Linked DNA regions of Homo sapiens: region 2 is linked to region 1. Evidence: fine-mapped expression QTL. Tissue or cell type: putamen. Region 1 holds a variant in brackets; the other region holds the start of a gene. All regions are shown on one strand. Distances are between the middles of the regions.

What was found. PIP is the estimated chance that this variant, and not a neighbour inherited with it, causes the effect.
Region 2: it holds the start of TRIM52-AS1, and the variant in region 1 is fine-mapped to the expression of TRIM52-AS1 in putamen (GTEx, PIP above 0.99). The same link has a PIP of 0.9 or more in anterior cingulate cortex, cerebellar hemisphere, hippocampus, nucleus accumbens and prefrontal cortex.

Annotation. Positions count from the first base shown.
Region 1 is chr5:181,281,109-181,286,299 of GRCh38, reverse strand. No RefSeq gene overlaps it. Among named protein-coding and RNA genes, the nearest start is that of TRIM52-AS1, 22 kb to the right of the region's middle. RefSeq lists enhancers at 1,744-2,264, 4,988-5,191. The variant A/G (reference allele first, on the strand shown) is at 3,040.
Region 2 is chr5:181,258,358-181,263,474 of GRCh38, reverse strand. It overlaps TRIM52-AS1 (TRIM52 antisense RNA 1), which reads right to left and starts at 2,263. Exons shown (of 3, transcript NR_102762.1): 1 at 2,091-2,263. TRIM52 (tripartite motif containing 52) reads left to right here and starts at 2,332. Exons shown (of 2, transcript NM_001346048.2): 1 at 2,332-3,474. The coding sequence starts at 2,662. RefSeq lists silencers at 1,702-1,951, 2,062-2,211 and enhancers at 2,352-2,401, 2,582-2,631.

The DNA.
Region 1 (5,191 bases):
AAACCTCTGCCTTAGCAGAAGATACTGGGGAGACAGGATCAATCGGGGAGGTCTTCCAAGGCACATGGTGCTTCATGGAGCCAGGGCCCAGGACAGGGAGGGCTGTAACCCTGGCTTGCCTGATTGGCTGAGCACAGACAGAAGAGGGTGTGGGCAGCCCGCCAGGTGGATGCCTAAGTGAGGAAGGAATGGGTGGCCAGGTGACTGAGACCGCCAAGACCAGGACCCCACTGTCAGGCCTGTGGCTTCCCAACGCCTGTGGGAAGTGTTCCCCTTTGGACACTGAGGCCATCGGCTTCAGCTTCACACCCTTTTCCAGACAAAGACCCTCAGGTAACCTCAAAAGTCACTTCTGGCCTTCCCCAGAGGGGAAAGGAGAGGGGTGCCTGTGGGCAGGTGACCCTCAGTGCTGGTGGAGGGCACAGCAGAGAGACTGCCTGCATATGGGAGGCCCCCAGCAGACCTTGCCCAGACATCAACCCTCGTTTGAGGCAAACTGTAAAATTATCACAATTTAGGCCAGGTGCAGTGGCCTATGCCTGTAATCCCAGCACTTTGGAAAGCCATGGCAGAAGGACTGTCTGAGCCTGCAGTGAGCTATGACTACACCCCTGCACTTCAACCTGGTCAACAGAGGAAGACACTGTATCTAAAATAAATAGGCTTGGCGTGGTGGCTCACACCTGTAACCCCAACACTTTGGGAGGCCGAGGCAGGTGGATCACCTGAGGTAAGTAGTTCGAGACCAGCATGACCAATATGGTGAAACCTCATCTCTACTAAAGACACAAAAATTAGCCGGTCGTGGTGGACCGTGCCTGTAATCCCAGCTACTCAGGAGGCTGAGGCAGGAGAAATAGTTTGAACCCAGGAGGCAGAGGTTGCAGTAAGCCAAGGTCGCGCCACTGCACTCCAGCCTGGGCGACAGAGTGAGACTCCACCTCAAGAAAATAAATAAGATGGGAAAGCTATGTTCTTAACATTTTTCAAATGATAATTCATACTAAAGAATGTTACCAATAACATTATAACTTATACCAATAACTTATAAAATAACATTATAACTTATACCAATAACTTATAAAATGCACAAAGCATTTTATAAGTTTTAGACTATTAATAAAAAGACACGAAAACTGAGGTATTTGTAATCATGCTTAATATTGGAAGTTCCTATACCTGCAATGTAGCAACTAATTATACAAAAATTTAATAAATGACAAAATAAAATTTTGCAAACAGATTTGTAATAACCAGAAAGAAATCTGTATTGGCAATTAATGTAACATAATTAAAAATAATTTGTTATGGTCATCTGCTAAATGCTAATTAATGTAAAATGTTAAAAGATTATTTCAATTATGACATCCTAATTTTTAATGGCTTGAAATATTATAAATATAAAAAACAGGTTTCTAAATTTAAAAGAAGAATGACTAAATTTTTCAGAAATATTTCATATTTCTTGTCATACAATATAAGAACACCATTCCATGTTTCCTTTTAGATTAGGAACCTTCCCTTATCTCACTGAAAGGAGAATGCTGGAAGGTGCTAGTAAGATGACAGTCTGTCTAAGGACTCCAGAACTGAAGGAATTGTTTTGTGGCAATGCATGTCACTTCCCTAACTCAACTGGAAAAGGAGACAAAAACCTAGTGTTTTCAACCCTCAAGCTAGCAAGAAAACACAGCCCAGGTAAGATCATCTCTTCTCCAATGGAGCTGGAGTCTACTCAACAAGAGGCGACCATTTAGAATAGAATTGTTCAGAAGTTTGCTAACAATAAGCAGCCAACATAGACACATTCTCCATTAAATCTAAAATTCCCTTTTCCCCCACTAGGGTGCCTGAGGGGCATGTAGCAAAAGTGATCCCAACCACACCACGCAAACTAGCCAGGAAACCTTTTTGCCTTCACACATCTGAGAGTCCCTGAGAAGCCGGAGACAACACAGAGGCAGCAAAACACCAACAGGAGAGTCCCAGCATCAGTTCCTGGCCACAGAAACCCTCCTGAGCAGCAGGCAGAACAGAATCCACTACAGCAATCAGCCTGCCAGAGAAGCCTCTGCCCCTGTGGTGTGAGGATCCACTTCCCCCAGGTGACACCACAGGCAGGTGGGCTGAAGAAGTGGGAAGGTCAAATCGACTGGCCCAGCCAGGATGCCTCTTTGATGATACAGGTGGTACCGGTCTAAGCCTCCCCTCTTCCACAGGGGAAACTAGGTGGCCCAAAGGGTGCCCAGAGGCAGGGGACCTGCCACAGCAGCCACCCTCCTGGGAGGTTCCCTTTCTTCCCCTTCGTGAACTCCCTCTAACACACAGCTTGCCAGGGAAGCACCCTTTGTCTTACATGGAGGGATCCCACCACACCAAAACCCAGCCAAAGAAGCCTTTTGTCCCTTAAGGGTTACCACAACCAAAAACAAAAAGATACACAAATAGTAAGCCCCTAAATTCTGTTAAGAATGAAACAATGCTGCCACTCACACCTGGCTCAGACGCCAGCAGAAGGAGGGCACCCTCCAGAGACCGCAGGAGAAGGGGGAGGACTCCTCCTTGCCCTGGTCCACCACTGTCACTGAGGCCTGCGGTACAGAACCGGCAGCTTCTTACCCACCCCAGGCCGGGCCGGGCCCCAGAGCTCTCCTACTCCCCCTTCCTGGCCCCTAGACTTGCTGCTGCTGCCACCATTAGCGCCGACGCCAACGGAACCAGCGCTGCTGTCACCCTCCATGCACCTACCCACCCTCCAAGGCTCCTACTACTTGGCCTCCACGGGTACCCTCCTACCACTCCTGTTGAGCTGCAGTCTCCATCACCGTGGCCGCCACAACCGCAGGAGATGAATCACAGAGCTGTGCCATCTTCAGGCTACAACCTCCAGCTCACCACAGGGGACTCCTCCTTCATCAGCCTGGCTTGGAGCAGCTGGGCAGACAATGCCAGAAAAACCTACAACAGGATGCAGAAAGTGGCAGTGTTGGAGCCTCACCTTGTCATGCTGGCCACTGGGTGGCAGGGACCAGTTTCAGC[A/G]AAGGCACTCACACCTACCCTCCAAAGTCCAGCCTCTCCTCCTAGACCAAGCTGGCCTCCTGACCTGGGGTGGGGACTGGAGACACCACAGTGCCCAGGGCTCACTGGGGAGCAAGAATAGCAGAAACTCAGACCCAGCCAGTCCTCTCCACCCAAGTACCAGTTCCCATTCCTCACTCCTCCACCCACAGGACCCTGAGCCCCCGTGGTGCCCACTACTCCACGCCTGGGGCCCCCAGATGGTCTCCACACCACGCAGCAAGAGGGCAAGGGCCGGGGAACCATGGTGGGTGTGAGGGCCCTGGGGTGGTCAGAGGATTGCCGTGAAAACTCTGTACACCCTCCACGCTCCAACACGAGCAGAAGTTGTTCACCCTCTAGAGCCTTGAGTCCGGGAAGAGGAGAAGGGCCCCTTCCTCAGAGGCCACCACTGTCGTGGCCACCTCCACAACCTGCCGCTGGCAGCAGCAGTGCAGCCTCCCCCCATAGCGCCCCAACCTGCCCCCCCACCGACAAGCGTAGCCCCCGGATTGTGCCCACAACACACCCAGAGACTGCTGCAGGCAGTGTAACCCTGATAGCGCCCCCAAACCACCCCTCTGCTCCTGGCAGTGTAACACTCGATAGTGTCCACAACCCATCCCCGCCACGGGTGTTGCAGCACCAAATAACACCCCACCAAACCCGCCCCCCACCCGAACCACAAGCAGCACAGCCCCAGATAGCGCCCCCAATCTGCTCCCGTCTCGGGCAGTGAACGCCCAGGGCAGTGCACCCAACCAACCCCCCACCCCACCTTCCCCTTTCCCCCACGGACAATGCAGCATTTGACAGCTCCCCTAAAGCACCCCCGACTGCCTGCCAGTTGGCATTGTTGCTGACATTGTAGCCCACGATAGCTCACCCAACCCGCCCCCTGCATCAGCCAGTGCAGCAGCTAATAATGCTCCTAACCCCCTGCCACCCGCCACTGGCAGTGCACGACAGTGCACACAACCCACAACCTGCCTCCAACCCCCCGCCCCCTTAGGCAGTGTAGAGCCTGATAGTGCAGCGAACCTGCCCCACTGCCAGCAATTCAACGCCTGATAGCGCCACCCACCAGCCCCCCGCGGCAGGCAGTGCAGCCCCAAAAGCACGCCACACCCGCTCCCCTACCACCCCGCAAGCGGGCAGTGCAGCCGCAGAGAGCGCACCTACCCTGCCACCTTTCTACCAGTCTAACAGAGATGCAGTCTCCGTCGCCACCACCAACCACAGCCAGGAGAACCGCGGTGGCCAAGGCTCCAGCCACGAGTGTTGGACACGGTCCCCACCTTCTCCTAGACCTCTAGCCGGTCAAGAGCATCTCCAGCTGCCACCCACCCTCCTACGGCTCAGGCCGCCCTCTTACTGCTCCAGCCCCCCTCCTACCGCTCAGGCCGCCCTCTTACTGCTCCAGCCCCCGCCTACCGCTCAGGCCGCCCTCTTACTGCTCCAGCCCCCTCCTACCGCCCCGGCCGCCCTCTTAGTGCTCCAGCCCCCGCCTACCGCTCAGGCCGCCCTCTTACTGCTCCAGCCCCCGCCTACCGCCCCGGCCGCCCTCTTACTGCTCCAGCCCCCCTCCTACCGCTCAGGCCGCCCTCTTACTGCTCCAGCTCCCGCCTACCGCTCAGGCCGCCATGTTACTGCTCCAGCCCCCTCCTACGGCTCAGGCCGCCCTCCTAAAACTCCAGCCACACTGCCATCTCTGTTGCCACCACCATCCAGAGTGAGACGAGCCACGGTGTGGCAGGCTCCAGCCTCCAGCTCCCCCTTCTCCTGGTCCTCTAAGTCGGGGACAGAGTAGCTCAGTGGGAGATACTGGAGAGCCTAAACTGGCGTGAGGCCTCCTCAGCATGCACATTGGGTTATGCGCATGGTTTCTGGACTGCATGTTCTGATTGGGTGAGAGAAAACCTCTAGGCCTTCTCTGATTGGACTTTATTTTCATACTCTGATTGGTTGTCCAGTCCTGGAACATGTAGTCCAGGAACCGCATATGAATAACCTCAGTATATAATTGGTGCTGAAGAAGAGAGGCTCTTCCAGGTTTTTCTGTGTCTGCTCCCGGTGCTGCTCCGAGCCCGGATTAGAGGACCAGGACAGACTGGAGGCTGTAGTTTGCGCACCG
Region 2 (5,117 bases), 23 kb after region 1:
CCTTGTATGGGGCTGAGCGTAGTGGCTCACATCTGTAATTCCCGCACTTTGTAAGGCTGAGGCAGGACTGCTTAAACCAGGAGTTCAAGACTAGCCTGGGCAACATAGCAGGACCTCATCTCTACAAAAAAAAAAATAATAAAAATTAGCCAGATGTGGTAATGCACACCTGTAGTCCCAGCTACTTGGGAGGCTGAGGCAGGATGATCACTTGAGCCCAGGGGTCAAGGGTGCAATGAGCCATGATCATACCACTGCATTTGGCCTGGGCAACAGAGCAAGACCCTCTCTCAAAAAAAAAAAAAATCTAAAAGAGAATGGGTAAATCAGGCATAGTGGTGCATGCCTGTAGTCCCAGCTACTCCACAGGCTGAGGCGGGAGGATCACTTGAGTCCAGGAGTTTGAGGTGGTAGGGTGCAATAATCGTGACTATAAATAGCCACGGCACTTTAGCCTGGGCAACATGACGAAACCCTGTCTCTATAAAAAAATAAAGAAATTAGCCTGGAGTGGTGGTGCATGCCTGTGTTCCCAGCTATTCCAGAAGCTGAAGTGGGAGGACTGCTTGAGCCCAGGAGGTGGAGATTGCTGTGGGCCCAGATCGTGCCACTGCAGGGGGCTACAGGAGTCTAAAAGGGAGGGGACACAATTTCCCCAAATCTCCAATGTTGAGGAGTTCTGCCTACACTCCTTGCCCCAGGATGCCCCCAGCACCAAGGCCAAGAGGGTGTCTTGGCCCTCAGCACTGGGGTAGAACATCTGTACACAGAACCAGGCCACAGGAGAAGGCATACACAGAGCCCATGAGCACCAGCCCCTCTGAGCTGCGTCCAGCCCCCATCTCCATCCTCTGTTCTCTGGGACTACAAATCCAGGCCTGACCTGGTTCTATCCCTACCTGCAGAGACAGAAGACAGAAGGAGACAACCCCTGAGAAGCCTTTCCCCAGGGCCTGATTCCCCCTCCCACTGTAAGATCTCTCAGCCCGCACTTTGGGAGGCCGAGGTGGGCGGATCACGAGGTCAGGAAATCGAGACCATCCTGGCTAACAGGGTGAAACCCCGTTTCTACTAAAAATACAAAAAAAAAAAAATTAGCCGGGCGTGGTGGCGGGCGCCTGTAGTCCCAGCTACTCGGGAGGCTGAGGCAGGAGAGTGGCGTGAACCTGGGAGGCGGAGCTTGCAGTGAGCCGAGATCGCGCCACTGCACTGCATCCTGGGCAACAGCCAGACTCCATCTCAAAAAAAAAAAAAAAAAAAAAAACCTCTCAGCCCTGGATCAGGTCCCCTCTCCAGGAAAGGTGACAGAGTGGAGTCTAAATGACACTGCCCTAGGGCCCCGCTGGGGTGGAAAACAGACCCAGACAGCGCCCCCAGCCCTCCCTCCCCAGGGAGGAGTGAAGGGCATAACAGACAGCGGAGGACACCGGGACAGGAAGGAGGGGCCAGCCGCTCTCAAACTAAGTCTAAACCACGGCGGTGAGGAAGTGTGGTCCCAAATCCAGCCCCCTCCCGGCCGAGCTCACAGAGCTCAGGGCTGGAACTCGGAACCCTGGCCCGACGCAGGCGGCAGCACCGAAGGGAACTTGAGCCCCGGCCCCCTCAGGGGACCCACGACCGGGGCGCAGCTTTGCTGGCAGACGCCGCAATACTGCGCAGCCGCGGCCCCGCAAGCAGAAACAGGGCTGGGTCTGAGGCCTACGTGGAGCTGGGGCCCGACGGCTCACGGAAGGCAGCGGGGGGCACTGGGCGCCCCGGATCCGAGCCTCCCGGGCGGCAGGCCCTCCCAGCTGTGCGGCGCCCGGATCCCCACAAAGGCACCCCAAGCGCGGACGGCGGGACGGGCGACAGCACCAGGGTGGTGTCCCAGGCTTCCCCACCGCCGCGGACCAACTCGGCCCCGGCCCGGGCGGGGCTTCCGGAGAGATTTATCCCCCTTCCCTCTAACCTTCCTGGGGCTCCGGCTCAGGCTGGACAACGGCTCGGAGACCCAGTCCCCCTCAAGTGTTGACCCCCCCACCATCTAGAACCAGCCAACCCACCAAACCACCTCTCCCAAGCCGGGCCTCTTCCCGGCGTCCGCCGCTGACCTGATCAGAGCCGCTCTGCCGGCCCGAGGGAGCTGAGAAGGGGCTTGGGAATGGGGTCTTGAGGAGGGGCTGGCCGGAATGTGCAGCACTAGCCCAGCTGGAGCGGGCGGCGCGGGCGCGCCTGTCCCCCAGCCCACCCAACTCCCGGCCCGCGCGGCCCCCGGCACACCATAGAGACGTGGTCCTCCGCCGGCCTAGAGCGTCTCTCCAGAGCGTGTGCAGGAGCGAGACGTCATTTTGCGTCGCCTCGGGCAGGGTAGCCAGCGGCTGCATCTGAGGCGGACGCCGCAGTGTAGGGCACACCCTGAGGGTAGCGAGAGACGTGACAGGACCGAGCAGCTGGGGGCTGCAGCCTGCTCTGTCCCCACCGATCCCAGAGAGAGGCTGTGAGTCTGGATCTGGGCGTTCGCACCCTGAGAGAGGGGGTCAAAGCTCCCCTGCGGCCCCGAGGAAGAAGAGCAAGGTTGAGGACAGCCTCGGGTCACCAGAGTAGTTTGGAGGCAGGCCTGCAGGCGCGTCCCCGCTCCTCAGCTCCAAGCTGACGTATCTACACCTGCCGGCGGGCATTAAGATGGCTGGTTATGCCACTACTCCCAGCCCCATGCAGACCCTTCAGGAGGAAGCGGTGTGTGCCATCTGCTTGGATTACTTCAAGGACCCCGTGTCCATCAGCTGTGGGCACAACTTCTGCCGAGGGTGTGTGACCCAGCTGTGGAGTAAGGAGGACGAGGAGGACCAGAACGAGGAGGAAGATGAATGGGAGGAGGAGGAGGACGAGGAAGCGGTGGGGGCCATGGATGGATGGGACGGCTCCATTCGAGAGGTGTTGTATCGGGGGAATGCTGACGAAGAGTTGTTCCAAGACCAAGATGACGATGAACTCTGGCTCGGTGACAGTGGTATAACTAATTGGGACAACGTAGACTATATGTGGGACGAGGAGGAAGAAGAAGAAGAGGAAGATCAGGACTATTACCTAGGAGGCTTGAGACCTGACCTGAGAATTGATGTCTACCGAGAAGAAGAAATACTGGAAGCATACGATGAGGACGAAGATGAAGAGCTGTATCCTGACATCCACCCGCCTCCTTCCTTGCCCCTTCCAGGGCAGTTCACCTGCCCCCAGTGCCGAAAGAGCTTTACACGTCGCAGCTTTCGTCCCAACTTGCAGCTGGCCAACATGGTCCAGATAATTCGCCAGATGTGCCCCACTCCTTATCGGGGAAACCGGAGTAATGATCAGGGCATGTGCTTTAAACACCAGGAAGCCCTGAAACTCTTCTGTGAGGTGGACAAAGAGGCCATCTGTGTGGTGTGCCGAGAATCCAGGAGCCACAAACAGCACAGCGTGCTGCCTTTGGAGGAGGTGGTGCAGGAGTACCAGGTGAGAGAAATGAGGGAATGTGGGGGGATGAAGGGAGTGGAAAGGTAACTAGGAGAGCTGAGGAATGAGTAGCATTCCTTTCCCACCTCCTCAGGTACTTAGTTGCTAAACTTCTCTTTATTTGATGAGGGAGACACGGTGGAGAGAGATGGTCATATGGGTAAAAAAGGAGACACAAAACCATGAAGATTGGGGCAGATTGGCTTCCCCAGAGGAAGCTGAACAGATAATATGACGGTCACTGGAAGCGGACCACTACTGCTAATACTGGCAGTCTACCTAAGTGTAAGGGACGTGAGTAACAGATACCCAGTACTTCATTTCTCCCTAATGTGAGTCCTTGACCAATTCCCTGGGACAGGTACAGATAGGAATAGAAAGCCACAGTACTTGGAGATAATAGACATTTGGGACCTCAGCACAAGCAGTGTCAAAATAGATGTATTGGTAGACAGAAATGCCAGATGTGAGTCCTAAACTACTGATAGCAATTGGCCACACCCCCCCTCTGAAAGTCTGGGATTGCATCTCTACCTTCAGTGGGGTCCGTTTTCCTTCTAGAGAAAGGCAAAGCATATAAGCATCTTTGATGGATCAGAATGTGCCTCATATCCTGATCACTTTTCTTTCCTGGTATTTTATCATAGTGGAAGGAGTGCGGGATTTAGGATCAGATGACCTGGCTCTGCCACTTACTGTCTAGTCTTGGGCAGGTGTCAACCTCCTTGAGCTTCACTTTTTCCCTAGGATTGTAAGGATTAAAAGAGATCATATATGTTAACCATAAAGCACTAAACAAATGTTTGCTGTTTTATTTGGCTTTCTTGTAACTTGTCTTCCCTTGTTTGGGTGCTGATATGGTTAATGCCTTGCTTTCTAGTCTTGACTTCTAAGCATTAGATAATTGTCTCAATGACAATGAGCATGAGTACCATCTTCCTTACCAAAAGTCTAGGTAGATTTGACTCCTAGCAGTGCCCAAACGAAGGAGAGGTTGTCTTCAGGCCCATAAAGGTTGACCTGGATATGCAGCAGCCGCTGCTCACGTCTTAGTAGTGCTTTACAGTTTATAAAATATATTTCCTCGTGTTCTCCTATAGCAGTGGTTTTCAAATTGTTTTTTGACCAATTAGTGTGTCTTAAAATAAATGGGTCATGCCTAGCATTATCTCAAAATGAAGTAAGAGAAAATATTAGAACACATGGAACATAGTAAGGGTAAGTACTGCTTTATGAAACTTTTAAGTTATATATATATACATGTATATACTTCATCTAAAAATATATTGCTTTCTTTGAGTTGCAGTCAAAACACAAACACAGAGCACTGTCCTACAGGCTTCATGTATTAGATATTATTATCACCCCCCTGCCCCCATTTTATAGCAAATATTGGGAAGTGCACAGTTAAGGCACAAATCTAACCATAAGTCACTGCTACCTCTGTTACATTAACCTGACTTGAAGGACAAATCCTAGTACCATGTTTTCACCCAAGGTGATAACTAAAGTATCCCATGGAAAAAACTTATGTCCTATGCTTCTGGGTTTTAGTATACTGAAGCTGAGGAAAAGAGAGAACCTTCCATTTCTCTTCTAACTTTTTTTTTTGAGACGGTATCTTGCTCTGTTGCCCAGGCAGA